2 linked regions of the Homo sapiens genome follow. The protein of the gene in region 1 interacts with the protein of each later gene in a pairwise test. Each region holds a gene or a part of one and is shown on either strand. Other genes may lie near its edges.

Region 1 (7,798 bases):
CCATCTCAGCCTCCTAAGTAGCTAGCTGGGACTACAGGTGCATGCCACTGCAAAGGGACATTCAAGCATCAATTTACCCAACATTTATTGAGTACCTACTGTGTGCTGGGTATTGTTCCAAACAGCAGGGACACAGCAGTGGACAGAACAGACAACTCCACCCCCCCACCCTCACCAACTATGGGGCTGACATTGGAGAAGGATAGACATGAAATAAAATAAGCAAAAATACACAGTATGATGGATGGTGCTGAGTGTCAAGGAGAAACTGAGGAGAAAGTGGGTGATAAATGTGAGTAGAGTTTAATATTTTATTTTATTTCATTTATTTATTTATTTTTGAGACAGAGTTTCACTCTTGTTGCTCAGACTGGAGTGCAATGGTGTGATCTCGGCTCACCGCAACCTCCGACTCCCAGGTTCAAGCGATTCTCCCGCCTCTGCCTCCCAAGTAGTTGGGATTACAGGCGCCCACCACCACGCCCAGCTAATTTTTGTATTTTTAGTAGAGACGGGGTTTCGCCATGTTGGCCAGGCTGGTCTCGAACTCCTGACCTCAGGTGATCCACTTGCCTCAGCCTCCCAGAGTGCTGGGATTACAGGCCTGAGCCACCGCACCCGGCTAAGTTTAATATTTTATTTTATTTTATTTTATTTACTATTATTATTTTTTGAGACGGAGTCTCGCTCTGTCGCCCAGGCTGGAGTACAGCGGCGCAATCTCGGCTCACTGCAAGCTCCGCCTCCCGGGTTTACGCCATTCTCCTGCCTCAGCCTCCCGAGTAGCTGGGACTACAGGCGTCCGCCACCACGCCCGGCTAATTTTGTGTGTGTGTGTGTTTTTAGTAGAGACGGGGTGTCACCGTGTTAGCCAGGATGGTCTCGATCTCTTGACCTCGTGATCCGCCCCCCTCGGCCTCCCAAAGTGCTGGGATTACAGGCCTGAGCCACCGAGCCCGGCCGAGTTTAATATTTTAAATGACTGGGGACCGCCTAAGAAGCCACCTGAAAAGGTGACATTTGAGTAAAGACCTAAGGGAAATGAGCGAGGTGAAATTCCTGCCTCTTCAGTCGGTCAGACCTAGGGAAGGGACCACTTCCACCCCTGAGTCCTCAGCTCCACGCCAGTGCCTGGAACGTGGTAGGAGCTCCCTGAATGTATGTGGGGTGAAGAAAGGGGTGCATTGGGCACAATCTGGCGGTGCTGAGCCTGAGATCAGCCCGGCCTCCGCGTGCACTCACGTCTTGAAGGAGCTTCTCCAGGTTCTCCTGCAATTCATAGAAGTAGACCGTGGTGATGAGGCCGTCACGGGACTTGGTCAGGCAGTCCCGGGCCAGCTCGATGATCTGGTGGTGGATGAAGCTGAGCACGCCATCGGCCAGAGGCAGAACGCTGTCGGGTTCGTAGGCGCGGGTAAAGTCGCGCAGCTTCTCCTCCATCTGCGCAGTGGCCTGCGGGAGGGACGGAGGAGGGGCGCGGGGCTGTGCCCGAAGGCTGCGGCCGCCAGGAGCCTGCGCTGCGCACCGAGGCCGCCAGGGGGCGCGCGGGGATAAGGCGAGCGAGAGTGCAGGCCGCCTGGTCACCCCGTGACCGCCTCGGGTCCCACCTCACCTTCGGGAACCTCTCCTTGTAGACGTGATTCATCATCACGATCTCGTTGTCGTAGGAGGAGGGGGAGCGCCCGGGGCTGCGGGGAGAGAAGCCCATTTTGTCGAGTCCTCTGCCTCCAAGCCCGCAGAGAGCCCCCGCCCCAAGATGTAACCCTTTTATTCGCGGGGACAGGGGTCTCTCTAAGCACAAGTCCTAAGACCACTAGCTTGGTACGAAGGAGGAGGGATGCCTGCCCACCTGAGGCTCCGTGAGCGGGGCCGCACGGCTGGGGAGCGACGGCCACCATCCTCGTCTGTGATGCTCTCGGTGCTCCCGAAGTGTTTGGAGAGGAAGTGGAGCTCGTCCACCGTGGGCTGGTAGGGCAGCTGGTGAAGGCGCTCCTGGGAGGAGCAGGAGGACTGGGGACAGGGGCAGGGCCGGGGTCAGAGCCACCATGGGCCCCCCAACAGCTCAGGACCCTGAGCTGGGACTCCCAAAGCCGATGGGGTCACTGGGCAAGGCCAGGATCAGGACCTGATTTACGATCCTTGGATCCTAGGATCTTGGCTGGGACTCTTGGCCACAGACAGGTGGACAGGGACAGACAGGGGTGGAGACAGTGAGTCTGTTAAAGCTTGGGTCAAGTCATGAGCCTCCTCTGTTCAGAACCCTTGGTGGCTCCCACCTTACTCAGGGTGAACACCCAAGTCCTTCCCCAGTTATACAAGGTCCTGCCTCATCCTGCCCTGGGTCCCTGCCGTGGATTTTTCTCACTCTCCTGCTTACTTCCTCTGCTCCAGCTACAGTGGCCTTCTTTTTTTTTTTTTTTTTTTTTTTTGAGATGGAGTTTCGTTCTTGTTGCCTAGTTTGGAGTGTGATCTCAGCTCACTGCAACCTCCGCCTCCCGCGTTCAAGCGATTCTCCTGACTCAGCCTCCTAAGTAGCTGGGATTACAGGTGCCTGTCACCACGCCTGGCTAATTTTTTGTATTTTTAGTAGAGACAGTGTTTTACCATGTTGGCCAGGCTGGTCTTGAACTCCTGACATCAGGTGATCCACCTGCCTCTGCCTCCCAAAGTGCTGAGATTACAGGCACAAGCCACCGCACCCAGCCTAGTGGCCTCCTTGATGGTCCTTGGACAAGCCAGGCAAGCTCCTTCCTCAGGGCCTTTGCATTAGCTATTCTTTCTGCTTGGAACACATCTACTATGGATCCCTCCTTCTCATCCTTCAAATTTTTGCTTCAATGTCACCCCTCGGGAAGACCTCCTCTGAATACACACCCATTATTCCCTATCCCTACTCTATCTTGTTTCCTCTTGCTTTATTATCATTATTATTTTAGAGAAGGGTCTCCACTGAATATGGTGACTCACACCTGTAATCTCAGCACTTTGGGAGGCGAAGGCGGGAGGATCATTTGAGCCCAGGAGTTTGAGACCAGCCTGGGCAACATAGTGAAACTGTGTCTCTATTTATTAAAATTATTTAAAGTTAAAAAGAGAGAGAGACACGGTCTCCTTGTGTCACCCAGGCTAGAGGGATGTAGTACAATCATGGCTCACGGAAGCCTTGAACTCCTGGGCTAAAGTAATCTTCCCCCCTCTGCCTTCTGTGTAGCTGGGACTACACCATGCTTGGCTAATTCTTTTTTGCAGAGACAGGGTCTCTCTATGTTGCCCAGGCTGGCTTCCAACTCCTGGCTTCAAGCAATACTCCCACTTTGGCCTCTCAAAGTTCTGGGACTGAGGGCAGGGCTCGGTGGCTCACGCCTGTAATCCCAGCACTTTGGGAGGCTGAGGCGGGCAGAAAAACTGAGGTCAGGAGTTCTAGACCAGCCTGGCCAACAGGGTGAAACCCCGTCTCTACTAAAAATATAAAAAAATTAGCCAGGCATGGTGGTGGGCACCTGTAATCCCAGCTACTCGGGAGGCTGAGGCAGGAGAATTGCTTGAACCCAGGAGATGGAGGTTGCAGTGAGCCGGCACGGTGCCATTGCACTCCAGGCCTGGGCGACAGAGTGAGACTCCATCTCAAAAAAAAAAAAAAAAAAAAATTGCTGGGTCACAGGCATGAGCCACTATGCCTGGCTCTCCTCTTGCTTTATTTTATTTTTTTTTATTTCGAGACAGGGTGTTTCTCTCTCCCCCAGGCTGGAGTGCAGTGGCTCGACCTCCACTCACTGCAACCCCCACCTCCTGGGCTCGAGCAATCTTTCCATCTCAGCCTCCTGAGTAGCTGGGACTTCAGGCACAAGCCATCACACCTGGCTAATTTTTTTTTTTTTTTTTTTTTTTGTAGAAACAGGGTTTCATCACGTTGCTCAGGTTGGTCTCAAACTCCTGGGCTCAAGCAATCCTCCCACCTCAACCTCCCGTAGTGTTGGGAATACAGGTGTGAGCCACCATGCCTGGTCATATAGCTTTCACCCAGGCTGGAGTGCAGTGGTGCAGTCTTGGCTCACTGCAACCTCCAGTTCTCAGGTTCAAGCAATTCTCCCTGCCTCAGCCTCCTGAGTAGCTGGGATTACAGGCATCCATGACCACGCCTGGCTCATTTTTGTATTTTTACTAGAGACAGGGTTTCACCATGTTGGCCAGGCTGGTCTCGAACTCCTGACCTCAAATGATCCACCCGCTTCAGCCTCCCAAAATGCTAGGATTATAGGCATGAGCCACCGCGCCCGGCCAGAATGATATTTTTAAACATCACATTGCTCACTCCTCTGGTTAAAATTCCCCACCCCATCCATCTCTTTTATTTTTTTAATTAGTGTGCATTATCTATAGCCTACATAATCACAATTTCAAATGGTTCAAACTGAAATTTTAGTACAATTTAATATAAAGAAATAAAACCATTCCATGGCTTCCCCACTGGATTTAGAATAAAATCTCCCTTGCTGCCCTGGCTGACAAGGTTCCAGCCTGATCAAGGTCACTGCCTGCATCATCTCTATTCCTCCCCCGCATCCCAAATTTTCAGCCCCACAAAGCTACTTTCAACTTTTCAAATGCTGCAAGTTCTGTGGCCTCTAGAGGTTTGCACATGCTCTTCCCCTTCCTGGAACACTCTTCTCCCTTCTCTTCCATCTGCCAAACTCCTGCTGGTCTGTTGTCTTGGTTTCAATGTCACCTCCTCCAGGAAGCCTTCCTTGACAACCCCCCAATCTGAGTCACATGCCTCTCCCCTATCACCTCACCTTGTGCTACTTGCATCAAAGTTCTGACCATTCTATTTTGTGAATGCCTTCTTACTGGCTTGTCTTCCCCCATGAGGGCTGCGTGAATATTTACACTCTGGCCCAGCTTGCAGAACCCGCCTACCACATGACAATCTCATGACAAATGTCTGCTGAACATCATGCCAATGGCTGGATAAGGGAACTATGGGCATGGATAGAAAAGGGAGCAGATGAAGGGACTTTGGGTGTTCCAAGGGGTGAGCAAGTGGGCTCTGGGTGAAAGCTGTGGCCTGGCCCAGCCCAGCTGCTGATATCAGAGTAAATGGCTTAACTCACAGAGCCTTATGTCACCAGCTGTAAATGAGTGAGTCAGAAATGAGTAGGAAGGACCCTCCCAGAAATGTGTTGAGGGCAGAGCATTGGGCTCTGAGTGGGGCGGACCCATAACTCTTTAATAGATGGACAAGTGAACACCTTTGAAGAATGGGGAAACCCAAACTGTCTTTTTTTGCTTTTTTCTTTTGAGACAGGGTCTCACTCTGTCATCCAGACTGGAATGCTGCAGTGCGATCTCAGCTCAACTGTAGCCTATACCTCCCAGACTCCAGCGATCCTCCCGTCTCAGCCTCCCAAATAGTGGGGACCACAGGTGTGCACCACCACGCCCAGATAATTTTTAATTTTTTGTAGGGACAAGGGTCTCCCTATGTTGCCCAGACTGGTCTTGAACTCCTAGGCTCAAGCAATCCTTCTGTCTTGGCCTCCCAAAGTACTGGGATTACAGGCTTGAGTCACTGAGCCTGGCCCTAAACTGTCATCAAGCCCAGCCTGGACTGCTGGCCTGGGTGTGGGTCTTCAGGCTGGAGGGCCCCTGAATTCCTTACCCACCGGCCCACCCACCTACTTTCCACACTCACCGAGACGGTGGAACTGGGCGTGTTGGTGCCATAGCCAGATGAAGGGAGCGAGGCCAGAGACCACCGGCGTCCGTCCGCCCTGGAACCCAGCCAAGGTGCTCAGAGGCCACAAGGCCCCAGCGGTCCCCCAACTCCTCAGGGTGTGGGTGAAGCCACTGGCCAGGGCCAGGGTGGGGGTTGGGGGAATATATCTGCACTCTAAGATTCCTCAAGGCCCTCAGAATCAAGGGGATAAAGAGGGACTCTTCCAGGCAGGCACCGGGAATTGGAGGGAGGATCCGTCTCCACTCTCCTCCCCACGGTCCCCTCTCTTATCATTCAGAGTGGACACCGAGAACTGGAAAAGCCCCCACCCAGTGAAGCCTTTCCAGAGAGATTCTAGAAATTTCCCCCAAGTGAACACTCTCCATGAGAAAGCTCTGAGGGAGACCCTTGGATCTTCTCAGAGAAAAAAGACCCGTCCCACCCCCCAACATGTTCTGACATAGAATATTGTGTCCTTATGCTCTCGTGCACACAGACACAGTCACTGTTGCAGCCAAATCCATTAATGTTGGTGTGACTATCAGGTCAGGCTCACATACTGGCAGTGCACACATTTACACTTCACACACACGAAGACACACACTCACACATGACTCCTCAACACAGACACCCACACGTATTGACTATCCCATCCATGGACCCAAATATCACACTCTCACACACTAATGCACAATCACGCGTGCAAGACCAGACATGCACTCACCTATAGACACATGTGCTTCCACTCAGTACTCACACTCGGACACACAGACTCACCCAAACATACTCCACACTTCCACATTCACACAGATGCACGTTCCAGACACCCACGCTCACTACCACACATTGAAACTTGCACACAGCGACACACTCATTCACACTCGCACGCAGATGCACACACACAGGGACACACATCGGCGCGTGCTCATGTGAGTGCACAACACACATTAGCATGTGCATGTGTAAGCGTGTGGCTGTGAGACAGTAAACTGGACGGGCGCGGTGGCTCATGCCTGTAATCCTAGCATTTTGGGAGGCCGAGGCGGGTGGATCACCTGAGGTCAGAAGTTCGAGACCAGCATGACCAACCTGGTGAAACCCCATCTCTACTAAAAATACAAAAATTAGCCGGGCGTGGTGGCAGGCGCCTGTAATCCCAGCTACTTGGGAAGCTGAGGCAGGAGAATCGCTTGAACCCAGAAGGCGGAAATTGCAGTGAGCCGAGATCCCGCCATTGCACTCCAGCCTGGGCAACAGAGCGAGACTCTGTCTCAAGAAAAGAAAAAAAAAAGAGAGAGAGAGAGAGAGACAGTAAACACTGTGACTCTGTGTTTACTATCTCACAGCCACACACTCACACACGCTTACACCCACACACAGATTGCACGCTCACCTGGAGACATACCTGACTTGCTCCTCTCACATATTCACAGACACTTACAATCCTACAGACACATGTTCACACGTTCACATTCGCAGACTCGTGCCATTGCATAGGCACGTAATCCCTCACACAGTGACAATCACACACACACACCAGCACACTTTGCACAGTTACAAGGACACACACACACCCCATTTATTGGACTCCTCCCTTCCTTCTTCCTCCCAGCAGTCCCCTCGCTCAGTCCTCCCCGCTTGCGGATAAACATGTGAGACCCTATCCCAGAGCCTTGTCCTGGCTCTCTATTGCCCTCAGCTAAATTCCATGGTCAATAGGCGGTTCCCCCACTTTCCCAAGGGAGCTGTCTGTCTTCACAGTCTCCTTTGACTCTCACAACACAGCCTTCATCAGCCTTTGCACTGATCCCCATTCTCTGGCCTGCCTGCCCTATTCGACTCAGAGGGTAGAGACAGGACGTCATTGACCCCATACGCCCAGCTCCTAAGAACATAGCAGGTGTTTAGACACCATTTTTAGAATGAATAGAGTTCAAAGAAAAAGAGACAGGCCCAAACTCCCAGAAACGTTTCTCCAGAAAACATCAGAGAAACCTCTCTGCCTCCCCCAGTTTCACCAAAGGCCCATAGAAAATTCATTTAAGGACACCCCAGAAACCCTAAGAGACCCTTGGAAAGAAA
Region 2 (6,221 bases), 1.4 Mb from region 1:
CCAGCTCACCCCCAGGGCTGCAGGCTTAGCCTTGTTTGCCTGGGTCTTGGAGTAGCATGGCCATTGAGAGATGTGACATCAAAGCCAGACGTGGTGGTTCTCGCCTGTGCTCCCAGTGTTTCGGGAGGCTGAGGGGCAAGGAGCACTTGAGGCCAGGAGTTCAAGATCAGCCTGGGCAACATAGTGAGATCCTTCTCTACAATTTTTTTTTAAGGATTAGCCTGATACGGTGGTGCATGCCTGTAGTTCAGGCTACTCAGGAGGCTGAGGCGGGAGGATCGCTTGAGCCTAGGAGTTGGAGGCTGCAGTGAACTATGATGGTGCCACTGCACTCCAGCCTGGGTGACAGAGCGAGACCTTATCTCCAAAAATTAAAAAATGTGGCTGGGCGCGGTGTCTCATGCCTGTAATCCCAGCTACTCAGGAGGCTGAAGCAGGAGAATCGCTTGAACATGGAAGGAGGAGGTTGCAGTGAGCTGAAATCGTGCCACTGCACTCCAGCCTGGGCAACAAGAGCGAAACTCCATCTCAAAAAAAAAAAAATAATTAAAAAATGTAAAAGAAGATCTCAGTCTGAGTCTAGTGGGGGAGGAGACAGAGAAATGAATGGTGATGAAAGCTGTGAAGTAGAAGGGGTAACAGAGGCCGGGCGCGGTGGCTCACGCCTGTAATCCCAGCACTTTGGGAAGCCGAGGCAGGCGGATCACGAGGTCAGGAGTCCAAGACCAGCCTGGCCAAGATGGTGAAACCCCATCTCTACTAAAAATACAAAAATTTAGCTGGGCACGGTGGCAGGCGCCTGTAATCCCAGCTACTCGGGAGGCTGAGGCAGAGAACTGCTTGAACCCAGGAGGCGGAGGTTGCAGTGAGCTGAGATCGTGCCACTGCACTCCAGCCTGGGCGACAGAGTGAGATTCCGTCTCAAAAAGAAAAAAAAAAAAGAAGGGGTGACGGAGACCCAGCAGCAGAGACCCCCCAGTCCCATCTGAGGCAACATCCACACAAAGGCAGAGTGGAAAGGGAGTTCCTAGCAGTGGGAAAAGCCTGTGCAAAGAGGGCCAGAAGGAGCGAGTAGTTTGTTCCTCGTGGTCAGGATTGAATGGTTCAGGCCCTTGGGTCCTCCCTTCCCAGCTGAGGGGTTTAATCCAAGGGCGGGATTGCCAGTGAGGAATGTGAGTGGAGCCAATTCTGTCCTTTCATTAATTCATTCAACAGACACCTCCCAAGTGCTTACTAGGTGTTGTTCAGGGGCTGGAACAAACTCTTGCAGGGAAGATGAAGTTGATGATAATAAATATATGATTTGAAAAGGAAAGCCGGGTGCAGTGGCTCACACCTGTAATTTCAGCACTTTGGAACTCCAAGGTGGTAGGATTGCTTGAGCCCAGGAGTTCGAGACCAGCCTGGCTAACGCAGCGAGACCCCACCTCTACAAAAATTTTTAAAAATTAGCGGGGCATGGCTGGGTGCGGTGGCTCATGCCTGTAATCCCAGCACTTTGGGAGGTCGAAGCGGGCGGATCACCTGAGGTCGGGAGTTCGAGACCAGCCTGATCAACATGGAGAAACCCCATCTCTATTAAAAATACAAAATTAGCTGGGCGTGGTGGCAGGTGCTACTCGGGAGGCTGAGGCAGGACAATCGCTTGAACCTAGGAGGCAGAGGTTGCAGTGAGCTGAGATCATCCCACTGCACTCCAGCCTGGGCAACAGAGCAAGACCCCGTCTCAGAAAAAAAAAAAAAAAAATTAGTGGGGCATAGTGGTGCACCTGTAGTCCCAGCTACTTGGGAAGCCAAGGCAGGAGGATTGCTTGAGCCTGAGAGTTCGAGACCAGCCTAAGCAACATAGTGAGACTGTGTCACCACAAATCATAAAAAAAATTAGCTGGGTGTGAGGGCGCCTGCCTACAGTCCCAGCTGCTCAGGAGGCTGAGGCGGGAGGTTTGCTTGAGCCCAGGAGGTCAAAGCTGCAGTGAGCCATGATTGCACCACTGCACTCCAGCCTGGGTGACAGAGCGAGACCGTGTCTCTAAAAAAAAAAATTGCATTGCAGGGGTCACACCATTCCAAGGTCATGGCACAGTCAGGGGTCATAAAGGTGTGAAGGGTCACAACGGGGTCAGAAGCATGCGGGGGGTCAGGGCAGAGCCCGCGTGACCCCCAAAGTAGTCCCCTGTCGCTCATCGCCAGGTTCTCGCCGATCGCCATCGATGGTATGAGCGGCCTGGCGGGCGTGGGCCTGTCGGGGGGCGCGGCGGGCGCCGGCTGGTGCATCTTCGTGTACAACCTGTCACCGGAGGCAGACGAGAGCGTGCTGTGGCAGCTGTTCGGGCCTTTTGGGGCAGTCACCAACGTCAAGGTCATCCGTGATTTCACCACCAACAAGTGCAAGGGTTTCGGCTTCGTGACCATGACCAACTATGACGAGGCGGCCATGGCCATCGCCAGCCTGAACGGCTATCGCCTGGGCGAGCGCGTGCTGCAGGTCTCCTTCAAGACCAGCAAACAGCACAAGGCGTGAGCCCACCCCGCCTGCCCTCCCACCCCCTCCCCGGGCAGCAGAGAGAGAGAGAGAGAAAGAGAGAGAGAGAGAGAGAAGGGGCCCAAGAGAGACAGCACAGGCAGCCCCACGGACGACGCGAGGGCCCCACGTCCCTGCGGAAGCCACAGGGTGAGCACTCTGGGGTGGGAGGGTCTGCAGGGAATTGGGGGGGTGCCCGGGGATCCCCCGCCCCATCCTCCTGCCCCCACCCCAGGCTGGGCTGTTCACTCTCTCGTCTTGGTTTGGTTCATGGTGAAGGTTTTTGTTTCTTTTTTCGGCTAAAAAGAATGCAGAGATGTGCCCCCACCCCCACCCTCGACCACCCCCGATGGGATGGCTTGGGGGGCTCCAGGGGGTGCCCTCCCAGACCCCCTTGCCCAGGCCTCCCCAGCACCTAGGTGGGGCCTGGGGTAGGAGGAACAGGTTTAAAAATCCCCAAAAAAGCGAACCGTGAGGAGGGGTGTGGGCACCCCCGGCCCAGTGCCCCCTGGTGGAATGCGGGGGAGCAGGCAGTGGGGCTGGAAGCAGAAACAAAATGAAAAAAAAAGGGGGGTGGGAGGGGAAGAAAAACTCTATTTTTGTAAAAAGGGAAAAAGACCTCGTGGAGAATTTTTACTGGGGATTCTTGAACTTGAAAAAAAAAAACACAAAAAAAGACAAAAAAAAAAAAAGAAAATATTTTGGCAGGTTATGTTTACCAACTGGGGCGGGGGTGGGGGGGGCCCAGGGAGCAGGGCTTAGGGGCTAGCAGCCCACGGGGCCACACAGAGAAACAACCACGCAGACAGTCACACCACGGGGACACACGGACAGACGCAGACGGACACAGCGACATGCCCCAGACACGTTAAGGGACTGGTTGGCCAAACTCAGACACGTGGACAGGGATAGACAGAAAGAGACAGAAGCTGGGGCTACGTCCATGTGGACACAGACCACAGATGTGGGCACACGAATCCATCCACCTGTCCACGTGCACACGTGAATGTAGCGATAGATATTTGGACATCAAATTTGGACACCAGGTCACGGAGAAACACAAACACCACCCAGGAACACGCAGACATATGCCCATAGCATCCCACAGGCCCAGGCAGGAGGTCCCACCCCAGACCCTGCCCCAGACGCTCCCTCACCCTCTCGGCCCCCTCGCCCTGGCCCCCAGGTTCTCTGCAGAGATCTCTCCTGGACCCCCAGCGGTCTCCTTGGCGCCCACGAACACAGGCGTGCACACGCAGCGCACATGCATTGAGACACACGATACCTCGTTCCACCTTGGCGTCACGGTGGGCTGGAGGCAGCCCCCCCCCCCACAACACTTGAGGCCAAAGGACACCCCTGTCCCCGGGGCTCAGCCTCCCCCTGGGCCGAGGCCTTGGCCCACACAGCTGAGGGAGAGGCCCAGCCCTGAGCCTCCCCCACCAGGACTGGGCCTCCCCGGCAGCAAGACCCCGGCACTCCCCGCCAGGCCCAGGGTGGGGTGGATGGGCCCAAAGGCCCAGCCCCACACTCCTTTCCCGTCCACTTGTCACCTACCTATCCCCTTTCGGTTTGTTGGGTTTTTCGTCTTTCCAGATTGCAGTGGACACAGCCCCCGATCTCGAGCCCCGGCCCCCGGCTTCTGTCTGGACATTGCATCGCCCTAGTTTTCTTTCTTTAAAAAAAAAAAATTCCAACAGAAGCCACAGGCCGGAGCCCCTGGGAGCCCTCGCACCGCTCCCCACCCCACTCAGCGGCCCCATCGGAACTGAGAATTGCAAAACCCCCGACTTTAGCTATAGTTAAGTTGCCTTCCCCCGGTGTCCCCACGTTTGGTGTCTGGCTATGGCGCCCCCATCTGACTGTCCAGCTCTCTCTCCCCCACCCCTCCCGGTGTTGTTATTAAACGTCTGTGGAGCTTCTGCTGCAAGGAACAAAAAAGAAAAAAATCAAAAAAGCGACAAAAAAACACAAACAGAAGAGGAAAAAAAAGCAACAAAAAAAGAAAACACACAGAAGAGATTTAAAAAAAAAAAAGGAAAAAAAAAAAAGACATAAACTGGCACCAGTTAACTTTCTTGTACTTTTTTGCTGAATTTAGCTTCTTGTAGTTTTAACTTATTGCTATGTTAACTATTTATTCTCCTCGTTGCCCTGTAAGGACATCCGTGTATATTTCTGTTACTTCATCCGGTTTGCAAGTTAAAGGAACGACAATGTTCTCTTTGTTTCTTTAAGTTTTGCCGAGACATGGTTATGCCTAATTTATTTATAAAAGGGGAAGTGGAATCATTAAAGTAATAATAATTATTAATAACAGTAATGGTAGCCGAGTGGCACGCGGGGGCGTGTGCTCTGCGGGACAGTCCCCACGGCCAGCGACGTCCAGGTCACCAATGGGATTCTTTTTGCTCTTGTCTTGAGAATTTTTTCAGTCCTATTTAGCTGGTGAAATCCCTAGCTTGTTCTTGATACACGAACCTATTTATTCTCGTGGTTTTAAGTCCTCCCTGCCCTCTCTCCTCTCCCCTGCAGCAGGGCAGGGACCCCTCTCCCCTGCTGTCTCTTGGGGCTCTCTCCCCTCCGCCCTCTGCATTCGGGAACACGCACGTCCGCGTGGGAAGCTTGCAGCAGGGCGTCCGAGCAATAAGGGCTGGGTTTGTCCCCCACCCTGGGGGGGGCCAGGCTCCAGAGAGGGGGCACCTCCCCACACACCCCCCCCCCACCGAGGCCTAGGCCCCTGCCACCCCCAAGACTGGGAGGGGACTTCTTTTTCTAAAACACAAAACTCAGCCCAGCCAGGCCCCCTCCCTGGAGGCCAGCCCCTCCCCGCAGGGGGCCAGGCCGGGGCTCCCAGGCGAGGGGGACTTGGGGCTTCCACGTCCCTGGGGGGCAGGGGCCAGGCCAGGGGGGAGGGGGCTCAGCCCCTCCACCCCTCCCTTCATCCTGTTATTTATTCGGAAGGTTTCAAATCACGACAGAGTCCATGTTGGAGGTGATAAAAAACTGTAAAAAAAAAAAAAAAAAAAAAGACAAAACAAAAGACAAAAAAAAAAAAAAAACCCAACAAGAACACTTCGCGTTGCGTTTAGACTATTTATTACCGGGATCACAGGCCTGGCCGCGGTAACAGACTTTTACATGGAATTGTTTAATTATTTGTACTTTTCATGCCAGAAAATAAAAGTTCAGAATCTTAAGGCCTTGGGTGATCTCTGCACCGCTGCGCGGGGAGCACGCAGGAGCAGCCTGTGTAGTAGCGCCCAGGCCCCCGTCCTTCTCTGGGCCTGGGTCTGTCTGCAGCAGGGGCTTTGGCCCCGGGAGGGAACCCTTGGCCTCCACAGAGCACAGATGAGACCCAGGGAAGGTGGGACACGGGCCCGGATGGATGCTCAAGACAGAAATGGTCCAGGGTCCATCCACCTGGTATCTTCAGGAGTGATCCCCAGATGGTGGGGGAGGCCCGGGTGGGATCTGCAGAAAGCTGCGTCCCCTGCGCTCAACCCCTGCCCACACCCCGGTCCACACCCCAGCAAAGCGAGGCAGACACAGACAAGTTTGGGTGGGGGATCACATTTATTGTATTGAGGTCACAGGTCAAGTCATTCACTAGTCCCCACTAGGAGGGGTGGCAGGGACAGGGCTGGGGGTGGTGGGGCGAGTCACCAAGGTGGGGGGCCCAGGGAGGGCAAGCTCCTTT

What was found. The genes of interacting proteins can lie anywhere in the genome.
Region 2: the proteins of MAST1 (region 1) and ELAVL3 interact in a two-hybrid assay, tested with the Homo sapiens proteins (one study listed by BioGRID and IntAct).

Annotation. Positions count from the first base shown.
Region 1 is NC_000019.10:12,841,502-12,849,299, reverse strand, and holds part of MAST1 (microtubule-associated serine/threonine-protein kinase 1), read right to left. Parts: intron 5,772-7,798; coding exon 5,693-5,771; intron 2,011-5,692; coding exon 1,850-2,010; intron 1,689-1,849; coding exon 1,613-1,688; intron 1,453-1,612; coding exon 1,243-1,452; intron 1-1,242. UniProt on the Homo sapiens protein: Microtubule-associated protein essential for correct brain development. Appears to link the dystrophin/utrophin network with microtubule filaments via the syntrophins. Phosphorylation of DMD or UTRN may modulate their affinities for associated proteins.
Region 2 is NC_000019.10:11,450,826-11,457,046, reverse strand, and holds the end of ELAVL3 (ELAV-like protein 3), read left to right. Parts: intron 1-2,169; coding exon 2,170-2,521; 3' UTR 2,522-5,721; downstream 5,722-6,221. UniProt on the Homo sapiens protein: RNA-binding protein that binds to AU-rich element (ARE) sequences of target mRNAs, including VEGF mRNA. May also bind poly-A tracts via RRM 3. May be involved in neuronal differentiation and maintenance.